Homo sapiens: one gene and its partner. The protein of the gene in region 1 interacts with the protein of each later gene in a pairwise test. Each region holds a gene or a part of one and is shown on either strand. Other genes may lie near its edges.

Evidence for each region.
Region 2: the proteins of LAPTM4B (region 1) and CYB561A3 interact in binary tests that used the Homo sapiens proteins (3 or more experiments, as listed by UniProt).

Annotation. Positions count from the first base shown.
Region 1 is NC_000008.11:97,813,782-97,820,808, reverse strand, and holds part of LAPTM4B (lysosomal-associated transmembrane protein 4B), read right to left. Parts: intron 5,482-7,027; coding exon 5,408-5,481; intron 4,752-5,407; coding exon 4,629-4,751; intron 1,670-4,628; coding exon 1,571-1,669; intron 1-1,570. UniProt on the Homo sapiens protein: Required for optimal lysosomal function. Blocks EGF-stimulated EGFR intraluminal sorting and degradation.
Region 2 is NC_000011.10:61,351,856-61,358,882, forward strand, and holds part of CYB561A3 (lysosomal membrane ascorbate-dependent ferrireductase CYB561A3), read right to left. Parts: intron 5,974-7,027; 5' UTR 5,878-5,973; intron 5,517-5,877; exon of another isoform or gene 5,384-5,516; coding exon of another isoform or gene 5,348-5,383; exon of another isoform or gene 4,874-5,347; coding exon of another isoform or gene 4,859-4,873; coding exon 4,675-4,858; intron 2,138-4,674; coding exon 1,929-2,137; intron 1,708-1,928; exon of another isoform or gene 1,577-1,707; coding exon of another isoform or gene 1,519-1,576; exon of another isoform or gene 1,328-1,518; coding exon of another isoform or gene 1,285-1,327; coding exon 1,130-1,284; coding exon of another isoform or gene 1,005-1,129; intron 1-1,004. UniProt on the Homo sapiens protein: Transmembrane reductase that uses ascorbate as an electron donor in the cytoplasm and transfers electrons across membranes to reduce iron cations Fe(3+) into Fe(2+) in the lumen of the late endosome and lysosome.

The sequences.
Region 1 (7,027 bases):
TGCAGTGAGCCGAGATCGCACCTCTGCACTCCAGCCTAGGTGACAGAGTGAGACTCTGTCTCAACAACAACAACAACAAGACGGGGTCTCACTCTGTCACCCAGGCTGAAGTACAGTGCTGCTATCATAGCACACTACAGCCTCACACTCCCAGCTCAAACAATCTTCTCACTTCAGCCTCCCAAAGTGTTGGGATCACAGGTGTGAGCCATTTCACCTGGCCAACTGGTTTCCAATGAACCACTTTCTTTCTACTCCTTTTCATCACAGTACCTATATGAATTTTCTGCCTCAATGCAGCTTTCCCAAGTTTACTGAGGCATGATTTTTGAAGAATGACATAATTTTATGCCAAAATTAAGACAATGAAAGGCATTGAGATTCAAAAATTCAAAGTATGCTGGGTGCAGTGGTTCACACCTGTAATCCCAAAACTTTGGGAAACCAAGGCAGGAGGCAGCCTAGACTACAGGGAGAGACCCTACCTCAAAAAAAAAAAAAAAAGAAAGAAAGAAAAATAAATAAAAAAAGAAAAAAGTTGAAAGCATAAAGAGCCATGAGAGTTTTCTACCCATTAGTAGCTCATAAGCACAAGTTATAATGATGGTTTTATAAACAGATTGACCAAGATGAAAAAGAATTTGCAGCAATTGATTGATAAGGGTGAGGCACTGCTGCAGGAAGTAGAAGTCATTTAACTTTGGGGGACATCAATTTGACAACCTATCAAAGGCTTTCCAACCATGAACACCCTGATTTTAAGAAATTTATCTTGAAGCCGGGCACAGTGGCTCATGCCTGTAATCCCAGCTTTGGGAGGCCGAGGTGGGCGGATCATGAGGTCAGGAGATCGAGACCATCCTGGCTAACACAGTGAAACCCCATCTCTACTAAAAATACAAAAAAATTTGCTGGGCATGGTGGCGGGTATCTGTGGTCCCACCTACTGGGGAGGCTGAGGCAAGATAATGGCGTGAAGCCGGGAGGCGAAGCTCGCAGTAAGCCGAGGTTGCGCCACTGCACTCCAACCTGGGCGACAGAGCGAGACTCCATCTCAAAAAAAAAAAAAAAAAAAAAAAAAGGAAATTTATCTTGAGATAAATGCATAAATATAAGGATGTACTTAAATATATTCACTACAGCCCTATTAAGTGAAAAAGTAAAAAATGTCTCAATGCTCATCAAGTAATTTATTAAATAATGATATTCATATAATGGATTGAGATAGAACAATATTCAGAAAATATTACACTTTTAGCAAAAAATTACAAAAGAATATCCATTACACAGACCTTGTAACAGACGTTGCAATATCATATACTATGTAATGTATAACATTATGTTAACTTATCTCTGTCCAAATATATTTTGGACTCCTTGATCAAACTGTGGAATTTTGATTAGTGTTTACCTCCAACATAGACAGCATAAAGAATTGTAATCTTAGGAAATCAAAAAGCAATTTGGATGTCCAAAGAAAGACAATAAACTGACCAAAGTTTGTTTACTTATTTGGTATTCAGGAATACACTTAATATTTTTAGACTATAAGTAAAATCTTCATGCTTACCTTAAAAGTCAAGATAATGCTAATAAACAGAAGAATAATAAGGACCAAACAGGTAGGATTCACTGACATGACATCATCTCTGTAGGGAAAATTAGGAGGCTGCAAAAGAAAAGGGCCTCATTAGCAAATCTCATTAATCATTCCAGACAGTATTCCTTGGGCACCAATTCAGACATGCTTATCAGAAAGCAACTGATTAAAGCAGACAGCTATTATTTAGAACCAATACAAAATTTCTAGCCTGACTCTGCCCTCTTACCATATAAAAGACGTCAGTGATCGGTATCCAGGGACATTTTGTATATCCAGGGATCTCTGAAATTTGTATTCTCTGCAAGTTCTGAACCATTCCTTTTTTTTTTTTTTTTCTTTTTTGAGATGGAGTTTCTCTCTGTCGCCCAGCTCAGCTACTTGGGAGGCTGGGGTGAGCAAATCACTTGAGCCCTGGTGGTGGAGGTTGCAGTGAGCGAGATCATGCCACTGCACTCCAGCCGCCCGGGCGACAGAGCCAGACCATGTCTCAAAAGTTCTGAACCATTCTAAAGGGCATATGCAGGGCAAGGGACAGAAACCTACTAAAATGAGGTCTTCTTTGCAAAGAGCATTTTTGTTGATGGTACTTCTCCCAAGACAGCATATTCTCTTATACTAGCAAGTACTTCCAGGGTGGGGGGAAATAATCAAGCACTACCATCCACAATGCTTAACAACCAGGTCAAAGGGAACCTTTTCAGGAGGATCAAAGTCTGCTACTATGGTTAGAGGGAGTTGCCGGACTTTCCCCACAGAACACTCACACAGCATTGATCAACGCCTACATCACTGGCCTAGGCAAGTGAATGGGAAGGCAGCCTACTGTGCTATCTCATCTTTTATCTCCCTTCACCATTCAACACTATGTGTTTGGATTCCTCACGAGCAATATTCCAAAACAAAGTTGTTTCCAATGTTGAGGAAGAACATGGAGAAGGCCCATGACTCATGGGCTTGGCTCCTGCTCACCAGGGTGAACACCACCTAATGGTTTTCAGTCTCCTTTCACTTGGGACAAAATATCTAAGAAATAAAATCGTCATTCTTTGTGATCAGATCATGCAACTTTACTCTTTTATTAATAAAATAACTTGGCCAAGCACAGTGGCTCATGCCTGTAATTTCAGCACTTTGGGAGGCTGAGGCAGGCAGATTGCTTGAGTGCAGGTGTTTGAGACCAGCCTGGACAACATAGTCAAACCCCATCTCTACTAAAAATACAAATTTAGCCGGGCATGGTGGTGCATGTCTGTAGTCCAAACTACTTGGGAGGCTAAGGTGGAAGGATCACTTGAGCCCAGAAGATTGAGGTTGCAGGCTGGGCATGGTGGCTCACGCCTGTAATCTCAGCACTTTGGGAGGCCAAGGTGGGCGGATCACCTGAGGTCAGGAGTTCGAGACCAGCCTGGTCAACATGGCAAAACCCCACCTCTACTAAAAAAAAAATACAAAAATTAGCCAGGCATGGTAGTGGGCGCCTGTATTCCTAGCACTCTGGGAGGCCGATGAGGGTGGATCCTCTGAGGCTAAATGTTTGAGACCAGCCTGGAAAAGATGGTGAAACCCCATCTCTACTAAAAATACAAAAAATTAGCCAGGCTTGGTAGCGGGTGCCTGTAATCCCAGCTACTCAGGAGACTGAGGCAGGAGAATGGCTTGAACCCAGGGAGGCGGAGGTTGCAGTGAGCCGAGATCACAACACTGCACTCCAGCCTAGGTGATAGAGTGAGACTCTGTCTCAAAAAAAAAAAAAAAAAAAAGTAAAGTTGGCCTGGTACAGTGAGTCACATCTATAATGCCAGCACTTTGGGAGGCCAAGGCTGGAGGATCACTTGAGTCTAGGAGTTTGAGACAAGCCTGGGCAACATGGTGAAACCCCATCTCTACATAAGATACAAAAAGAAAAATTAGGTGGGCATGGTGGTGCATGCCTATAGTGCCAGCTACTCAAGAGGTTGAGATGGGAGGATCACGGGAGCCTGGGAGGTCAACGCTGCAGCAAGCCATAATCACACCACTGCACTCCAGCCTGGGTGACAGAGACCCTGTCCCAAAAATAAATAAAGTTATTCCAACCTCATAGCCATTATAAGCTTCTTAATACCCTGCCACCAATATTCACTCATATGGTCACAAAGGACATTTAACCGTAAACTAGTCCCAAAATGATGCTTGAGAAAGGGATTCTATGGTCAAACAAATTTGGGAGCTAGTATACAGCAGTGTTCCACTTTCTTTCCACTTTCTTTTGATTTTTCTTTTTTTTTAGATGAGATCTCACTCTATTGCCCAGGCTGGAGTGCAGTGGCGTGATCTTGGCTCACTGCAGCCTCCACCTCCCAGGTTCAAGCAATTCTCCTGCCTCAGCCTCCCGAGTGGCTAGGGTCACAGGCGTGTGCCACCTCTCCCAGCTAATTATTTTGTTTGTTTTTGAGCAGAGTCCCACTTTCAACACACTAGCAAAGGCAAAAAGCTATCCTTTGTTGATAACTGAGAAAACTACATTTTACCAAATACGACTATTAGTAACTGGACTATAATTTAGGTAGGCACATCAACCACCACCATCACTGCCACCAATCATAACCCCGGCCCTCAAAACTTTATCAGGCCAGGCACAGTGGCTCACACCCATAATCCCAGCACTTTGGGAGGCCAAGATGGGTGGATCACCTGAGGTCAGGAGTTCAAGACCAGCCTGACCAACACAGTGAAACCCCATCTCTACTAAAAATACAAAATTAGCCAGGTATGTTGGTACATGCCTATAATCCCAGCTAGCTGGGAGGCTGAGACCCTGGAGGCAGAGGTTGCAGTGAGCCGAGATCGCATCACTGCACTCCAGCCTGGGTGACGAGAGCAAGACTCCACCTCAAAAAAAAGAAAAAAGAAATTTCCTATGAGTAACTCAGCTGCAAGCTAAAAATCCTGAAATTAATGTCTGTGTATCTCTACACATCCCTTACTTAACCAGCTTCCCTAATGAAAAGAATTAATGAAAAGGAGCAGTAAGAGGTCCACGTACCAGTTGCCGTATGTATTCCTGAATGGAGTTTGGATAAATAAGCACAGTGATTGCAACCAACATGTTCAGGGCAAAGTCAAAGATCTGGTAACAGAAGAATGGGATGATCCAGGCTGCGCGTTGCTAAACAGAACAGAAAATAGAAAGTTAATGTGTTCAATATTATAAAACAATATTTTTCTTAAATTCAAAGTATTTTATTAATCTGAAAGGAAATGGAAAAATTGGAATTCATTAACCCAGGTCATGGTGGAAACCAGTATGCCAAATATAAGCAGTCAACAAATAAGCTTCAGTGAACATTTCCAGGACTGGCTGTGTGTGGTGTCTCACACCTGTAATCCCAGCATTTTGGGAGGCTGAGGTGGGTGGATCACTTAAGGTCAGGAGTTCGAGACTAGCCTGCCCAACATGGTGAAATCACGTCTCTACTAAAAAATACAAAAATCAGCAAGGTGTGGTGGCACACACCTGTAGTCCCAGCTACTCTGGAGGCTGAGGTGGGAGAATCACTTGAACTTGGGAGGCGGAGATTGCAGTGAGCTAAGATCACACCACTCTACTCCAGCCTGTGTGACAGAGTGAGACCCCGTCTTCCCAAAAAAAAAAAAATTTCCAGTATAATATTGGTTTTCCTAGTACCACATAATACAAACGAGAGATTTAAACAGAGATTCTTAACAGAAAACTGGAAAGTCACTTCTCACTATAGACAGCAGCACAGATTACACATGTAAGAGACCAAGGAAAAGGCCAGCATCTTACTGCAAGCGGCTTACCTTGTACGCTCCGTAAGTAGCCATAGCACATATCAGGATCATGAGAAGAGAAATCGCAATGGCAATGCACATGTCTGCCGAAAGATTAAAAAGAATTTCTTTAAAAAAGACAATCAGTAGTGGATCCACTGAATACTTTCAGTCTCTTCTCAAAGGCATTTTGTAAATAAACTAGCATAAAGTTAGTAAATACTTTATACTAAGAGATTATTTCAAAATAGAAAAAGGGATATTGGTTTACAGATTTTTTTAATGTTTGTTCTTCTGGTCCACTGGATTATATAAATAATGAATTAGGTATTACTTTATAGATATATAGGTGTCTAACTTCTATTTTGTAAACTCATGTGTGCCTCAAAGCTCTAATGAAAGCCTTCATAGCTTCCGATCTTATTTAAAATAAAAACTCCGGCCAGGTGCGGTGGCTCACACCTATAATCCCAACACTTTGGGAGGCCGAGGAGGGCGATCACGAGGTCAGGAGATTGAGACCATCCTGGTTAACACAGTGAAACCCCATGTGTACTAAAAATACAAAAAATTAGCCGGGCGTGGTGGTGGGCACCTGCTGACCCAGCTACTTGGGAGGCTGAGGCAGAAGAATGGCATGAACCTGGGAGACAGAGCTTGCAGTGAGCCGAGATCGCGCCACTGCACTCCGGTCTGGGCGATAGAGCGAGACTCCATCTCAAAAAAATAAATAAATAAAAATAAAACCTTCATTTCTTATCAAGGCCTTGATGTTCCTCTTTATTCCAGAGCAGTCTACCTCTCTAATCTCGCCTCACCTTGTCCCACTCTCTTGCTTGCTCTAAGACAGCCATATCATCTGGTTCATTCTATTTTATTTATTTTTTCTTTTTTCTTTTTATTTTTTTGAGACAGAGTCTCACTCTGTCGCCCAGGCTGGAATGCAGTGGGACAACATTGGCTCAATGCAAATTCCGCATCCCAGGCTCAAGCAAGTCTCCCAGGCTCAAGCAAGTCTCCCACCTCACCCCCTAGGTACCTGAGACTACAGGTGTGCTCCACCATGCCAATTTTTATATTTTTAGTAGAGACGGGGGTTTCACCATGTTGGCCAGGCTGGTCTCGAACTCCTGACTTCAAATGATCTGCCAGCCTCGGCCTCCCAAAGTTCTGGGATTACAGGCGTGAGCCACCATGCCTGGCCTTCAACTTCTTTTTTCCTTTAGTCAATCTCTGGTAAATAAGGAGTCTTGTTTGGTCTCCCAATCTGGAGTTGCAGTGGTGTGATCATGGCTCATTGCAGCTTCAATTGCCTGGGCATTGTCACTATGGGATTATAGGCATAAGTCACCGCACCCGGACAAAAATATCTTAAACCAACTTGGCAGGTACACAACTGCTTGTAGCACCATTATTTGCTACGGGTAATAAATATTTTATAAATATTCTTTTATACCTACTCAATATTTAATAAGAAATAATTTTATAAAAATGAACCCCAAACTATTGGTTTTTTTAAACTGCTTTTCCTAGATCTGGCAGAACAAATTATTGTCAATGAGAAAAATAATATTGGTTTTCATTGTACATGCAACTTCTCTAAAAGCTTTGCATTTTTTCGACAGAGATCTAGAGGGGAAAACATAATCT
Region 2 (7,027 bases), on another chromosome or scaffold:
GTGAGCTATGGTCACACCATTGCTCTCCAACCTAGGCAACAGAGTGAGATGCTATCTCTTGGCTGGGGGGATAAAAGGAGAGAGAGAGGGTCTTCCTATGTTGCCCAGGCTGGACTCCTTCCACCTCAGCCTCCCTAGTAGCTGGGACTACAGGTGCATGCCACGGCACCCAGCTGTAATAATCCTTTTACCCATGAGGAAACTGAAGCTCAAAGCAATGAAATTAACTTGCCCAAAGTTGCATAACTAGTAAATGGCACAGCCAAGATCGAAACCAAGGTCTGACCTTAAGTCCTAGTTGCTTTTCACTACACCCCATTGCCTCAAAAGAACGGACAGTAGTGGTCAGGCATGCAAGGCTCTAGAGTCAGACTGCCTAATCTGAGTCCCAGCTCTGCCACTTACTGGCTGTGTGCCCTCGGGTAAGTTACGTAACCCCTCTGTTCCCTCATTTTTTTTATTTTTATTTCTACCTGAACAGTCCTATTGCAGAATCTGTTCCCTCAATTGAAAATGGCAATGACGGCCGGGTGCAGTGGCTCATGCCTGTAATCCCAGCACTCTGGGAGGCCGAGGCGGGCAGATCATGAGGTCAGGAGTCCGAGACCAGCCTGCCCAGCATGGTGAAACCCCGTCCCTACTAAAAATTCAAAAAATTAGCCGGGCATGGTGGCACACACTTGTAGGCCCAGCTACTTGGGAGGCAGAGGCAGGAGAATTGCTTGAACCCAGCAGGTGGAGGTTGCAGCGAGCCAAGATTGTGCCACTACACTCCAGCCTGGGCGACAGAGTGAGACTCCATCTCAAAAAAAAAGAAAAAAGAAAATGGCAATGACAACAATACCAATCAATACCAATGATGTAGGGTGGTTGACAGGATTAAATGTAAGGTGCTTAGTACTGTTTCTGACACACAGCAGGTGCTAAATCAAACTGATGCTCAATAAATATCTGCTGACTTACCAATTTCAACCTAAAGAAAGATCAATTCTGTTACCTTCCAGATCAGGAGTGGACCCAACCCCAAAATCTCTCCTCCCTTGGGTGAGTCCTGTGATCACAGGGTGTATCTTTTGAAGACCCTATTCCCTCCTCTTCACCTTAGAGTTGGGGACCCCACTGCACTCACAAACTGAAGAAAAGCTTCTCATTAATGCCCGAAATGACGGATGCGATGGACAGAGAGAGGATGGCGGCTCCAAAAAAGACGTGGATAGGTTTTAGGAGGCTGCGCAGCCACATGGACGCCCAGGGCAGGAGGAAGACAGCAAAGCCCAGGAACCACTGTGGACAAAAGGGAGGACACACCCGACTGTGCTATGTGTGACCAAAGCACATCCCACCCCATCAGTGCCTCCTCCCCATCTCTGCTCCCTGGCTCTTCTTTCACAACTCAAACCTTCCCACCTGGCATTGCCCACTACCGTGCTAGCTTCCTCATTGTGGCCTATTACCCAAGCAACAAGAACAGTAAATGACATGCTTAGCTACCATCCCACTCCCAGCAAACCCAACCACCTTGTTTGTCTCTGGTTCCTTCCAGTCCTTGCTCATAAAACTCTTCACTCGCACAGGCCTGAGATCAGAATATGGAAACCACTTCAAGAATTCTTTTGGTTCACAGAGGTGGGAGTGGGGAAAGTGGAAGCCAGATGGCTGATTAGAGTCAGCATAGTGCGTGCCATGACAAAGTTAGCAGAGAGGGCTCTGGGACGAGAGACGGGCAATGGGAGGGATAAAAGGAACAGGGTAAGTTCAGGCCACTGACCTCCCACAGCCCTTGAATAAACTGTCAGTTCTACAAGATAACAATCTGCAAGTCCCTCTCCAAGCAGTGAGCAGAGGAATATTTGGTGCTCATGCAAGTGAACCCCCAACCAGAGCTCATGGCTCTGGGAACCTCGAGGAGGAGAACAGAGAGAACCCACCTGGCAGGCGAAGAGGAAGACAGTGGTGATGCCCAGCCAGCTGTGAAGGGAGTAGAGGTTGGCAGTCCTTCCATGGTTGTGAAACGTAAAGACAGCAACCAGCCCCACAACAGTGAGGACGAAGGCCATCAGGTGCAGCGCTGCATGGAGGAGTTTCCAGGGCAGTTTGGGCCCCACCCACGACTGGGGCAGGCGGTACACCAGTGACGCTGCAGGAGAGAGTAGTGCCAGGGCTCAGCCTCTCCCCTCGAGCTCACCCAGACATCAGGGAATAACCCTGATAGGATCCTACACAGCTTCCCAGCAAGGGAACAGGAAATGCTAGGGCACTGGTATCAACTCCTCGGCATCTTCTACCCTCCCATGATTTGTGGGATAACAGCCATGAAGGGAGGAGAGAAGGGCCAGTTAAAAAGGGAGGAGTGGTCAGGCAAGGTGGCTCATGCCTGTAATTCCAGCACTTTTTGGGAGGCCAAGGTGGGAGGACTGCTTGAGGCCAGGAGTTTGAGGTTACAGTGAGCTATGATCATGCCACTGCAATCTAGCCTGGGCCACAGAGAGAAATAAATAAATAAACAGATTCCAATTAAAAAGGGAGGAGGGCTGGGCACGGTGACTCATGTCAGCACTTTGGGAGGCCAGAAGTTCAAGATCAGCCTGGGCAACATAGCAAGATCCTGTGTCCACAAAAAATAAAAATAAAAAATATTATCCGGGCATGGTGGCACATGCCTGTTCTCTCAGCTACTTGGGGGACTGAGGTGGGAGGATCACTTGAGCCTAAGAGTTCAAGGCTGCAGCAAGCTATGATCATCCCACTGCACTCTAGCCTGAAAAAGAGGGAAACCTGTCTCCTAAAAAAAAAGTGGAGGGGGGAAGCAGGTTTCTTGGACCTCTCATTCTATTTTCACAATAATAAATTCAGCTTGTTTGCAGTTTCTAGGCTAAAAAGCATCATGACAGTCATTGTTTCATCAAACTGAATTGTCACAAGTGAGGCTGGCTGTCAACACAGGTACTAAGGTCAGGCAACATAGGTCCAAATCCAGGCTCTGCCTCTTAGCTGTTTGGCCTCTCCTTTCTTTTTTTTTTTTTTTTTTTTTGAGACAGAGTCTCGTTCTATCATCCAGGCTGGAGTGCAGCGGCGCAATCTCAGCTCACTGCAAGCTCCGCCTCCCGGGTTCACGCCATTCTCCTGCCTCAGCCTCCCAAGTAGCTGGGACTACAGGTGCCTGCCACCATACCCGGCTAATTTTTTGTATTTTTAGTAGAGACGGGGTTTCACTGTGTTAGCGAGGATGGTCTCGATCCCCTGACCTCATGATCCGCCCACCTCAGTCTCCCAAAGTGCTGGGATTACAGGCGTGAGCCACCACGCCTGGCCTGGCCTCTCCTGTCTAACTCTCAATTTCCTCATCTGTAAAAGGGATATAACAGAGCCCACCTCACAAACTTGTAAGAACAAAATGGGATGATATATGTGAACTGCACATGGTAAGCTGCTATCATCAATGGCATCGTATTGCCATTTTACAAATGGGGAAAATGAGGCTCACCAGGGCCCCAAGGCACAGATTTGAAAGCATGGGACAAAGATTACAAAGATGGATCCCAGGTTGGGCGCAGTGGCTCACACCTGTAATCCCAGCACTTTGGGAGGCAGAGGCGGGTGGATCACCTGAGGTCAGGAGTTCGAGGCCAGCCTGACCAACATGGTGAAACCCCATCTCTACTAAAAAATATAAAAATTAGCTGGGCATGATGGCGGGCACCTATAATCTCAGGTACTTGGGAGGCTGAGGCAGGAGAATGGCCTGAACCCAGGAGGCGGAGGTTGCAGTGAGCCAAGATCACGCCATTGCACTCCAGCCTGGGCAACAAGAGCAAAACTCCATCTCAAAAAAAGAAAAAAAAAAAAAAGATGGATCCCGGAAGAGCAAGCAAGTCCCTCATTCGGTGGCCTGACTAAACCATGAGAGGCTTCAATCTCCTGTTCTCTAGAGCTGGTTAAAAACTACAGCTCAGGTCGGGCATGATGGCTCAAGCCTGTAATCCCAGCACTTCAGGAGGCTGAGGTGGGCAGATCACAAGGTCAGGAGATCAAGACCATCCTGGCTAACACGGTGAAACGCTGTCTCTACTAAAAATACAAAAAAAAATTAGCCGGTCACGGTGGCAGGCGCCTGTAGTCCCAGCTACTCGGGAGGCTGAGGCAGGAGAATGGCGCAAACCTGGGAGGTGGAGCTTGCAGTGAGCCGATATCACGCCACTGCACTCCAGCCTGGGCGACACAGCAAGACTCCGTCTAGAGAAAAAAAAAAAAAAAAAAAACACTACAGCTCAAAGGCCAAATCCAGCTCGCTACCTATGTTTGCAAATAAAGCTTTATTGGAACACGTGATCCACACTTGTGTGTATGTGTTGTCTATGGCTGCTCTCACAATACAGTGGCAGAGCTGAGTAACTGCAACACAGATTCTGTCTTGCAAAACTGAAATATTTATCTGACCCTCTATAGAAAGTTTGCCAACTCCTGCCCTAGAGTATTTGTGAAGCCACCCTTCTGAGATGCCCCCCATCTTAACCCCTTCCTCCCCCAAATGACAGCTAGGCCCAGAGACAGCCCAACCCACCCTACCCCCATAGCCCCAAGCCCAACATTTACAAAGGCCAGCCTTGGAGAGGGAAAGTGCAGCTTTGTCCAGCCTGAGCCCTATCCCGCCTCCCTTCCTGACCTCTTACTCACCACCTCCATAGAATACCACCATGCCAGCAACCATAAGCACTGGGTGCCAGTTGAACATGTAGATGCTGCCATTCCAGGCAAAGCCACCACGCCAGTACTGCATCCAGTAGATAGTGAAGAGGATGCACATAGAGCCCAGGGACCCCAGCAGCAGGCAGGACAAGTAGAACCGTCCAGACACCATTCTGATCACGCACTCCTAGAAGAAGGAGAAGTCACAAATCTCCACTGGCTCAGATGCACCCAGTTCTCTGGCTAAAGGAGGTAACACTGATTTAGCTCTTGGCCTGTGGGATGGAATCTTTTTGCTTCAGTTCCCCTGCATCAGCCTGGGCACCACCCCCCGCCCGAGGCCTCAATGCCTGGGTGGGCCTGATCTTCAGTCACAATGACTGAGGCCCCACCCCAGCACCTGGCAGTGCCCAGACAGAGCAGCAAACTCAAGGCTATGGCTGGCCCTGGCGAAGGCCAGATGCCAAGGCCCAAGACCCAGAGTCCTGGGATTCCTCTCCCCTCACAGGACCAGAAGGTAAAGAATTACCACCCCATACCCCCCAGGAAAAAAGGGACAGGAATCAAAATCCAGGCTAAATTACGCAAACACCCAGGCCTTGGGTTCTAAGATAAGAAGGCAAAAATTACAGTCTGAAAAGAGCAAACACCCCACTATTACCCTAGACAGGAAGGAGTCAGAAAAGTTCTTCCCCATAGAGTAAGCTCTATGGGGCTAATCTTCACTGGAGAGGTAACCAGGCCTTCACTCCACTGCCCACACTCCACACCTTGAACCAGCTGATGCCCCTCAGCTGTCTCCAGCCCTGAGACTTCTGCTTTCTCTTCCTCTGGGGAAAGTCCAGAGAAAAAAAGAGGAAGCAACAACTCATGGTCCAGAAAGCAAGAGATTTATTTTGAGATTTCCACAAGTCCTTGATAAACCCAGAAACCAACTCTGGTTTCAGGCATGGCAAATGCTTAAAGCCCTGAGCAGTTGCTCTTAAACGCTAGGTGAGTGGGCAAAGCCACAGGACTGGCCCTGCTTTCAGCTAATATGTAGGCAGCACGGGCCCAGGCATCAAGGCAGTCACCCTGTCCCACGGACTCACACCAAGAAGGCAACAGTGTGGCTTCCTGCATTGAGGTCCCTCACTCGGAAGCAGCTAATAGCCAATAGCCCCCACGGAGGTAAAACATTTGACTGCTCACCTTTAGCCCTAATGATAGGCTCAGAGAACTGGCCTGGGCTCCAATTCCTGCGAAATGGGCACCTTGAGCAAATCACTTAACATTTGCAGGACTCACCTGCAAGAAAGGCGTGGCAGTAAGAATACTTGAACAGTAAGAATAACGAACACCAGCTACGAGCACCAGAGCCTTACACACAAGATCCCATTTACTCCTCTTAACCCTGGGAGGCATATTATTCCGTGAGGAAACTAAGGCTGAGAGAGATAAGTAATTAGCATGAGGACCCAGTGAGAGTGGGTGGGGAGTTCCAAATCCTGTGTGTTTAGCTTCAAGGCCCACGCTGCTTCCTTGACCACAGGTTGTCAGATCAAGTGAGAAAATGAATGTAGCACACTGTAGAAGTCAAGTATTAGAATTCTTCGCTGGGCGCGATGGCTTATGCCTGTAATCCTGCACTTTGGGAGGCTGAGGCAGGTGGATCACCTGAGGTCAGGAGTTCGAGACCAGACTGATCAACATGGTGAAACCCCGGTCTCTACTAAAAATACAAAATTAGCCAGGAGTGGTGGTGGGCGCCTGTAATCAATCCCAGCTACTCAGGAGGCTGAGGCAGGAGAATTGCTTGAACCAGGGAGGCAGAGGTTGCAATGAGCCAAGATTGTGCCATTGCACTCCACCCTGAGCAATGAGAGCGAAACTTCATCTCAAAAAAAAAAAAAAAAAAAGGCTGGGTGAGGTGGCTCACACCTGTAATCCTAGCACTTTGGGAGGCCGAGGCGGGCAGATCATAAGGTCAAGAGATCGAGACCATCCTGGCCAATATGGTGAACCCCCGCCCCCATCTCTACTAAAAATAAAAAATTAGCTGGGCATGGTGGCGCGCGCCTTTAGTCCCAGCTAGCTACTCGGTAGGCTGAGGCAGGAAAATCGCTTGAACCCGGGAGGTGGAGGTTGCAGTGAGCTGCGATCACGCCACTGCACTCCAGCCTGGCGACTGAGCGAGACTCCATCTAAAAATATATATATATACATAGAATTCTTAGTCATTGCTGTCATGCACTTCATCCTAACTACTAACATGCAGCTCATGTTCCTTGTGCCTGCCCAGGCCTCTCAGTGGCCCTCAGCCATGCCATGCCAGCTCTCCCCATGCTAGGGGTCCACCTAC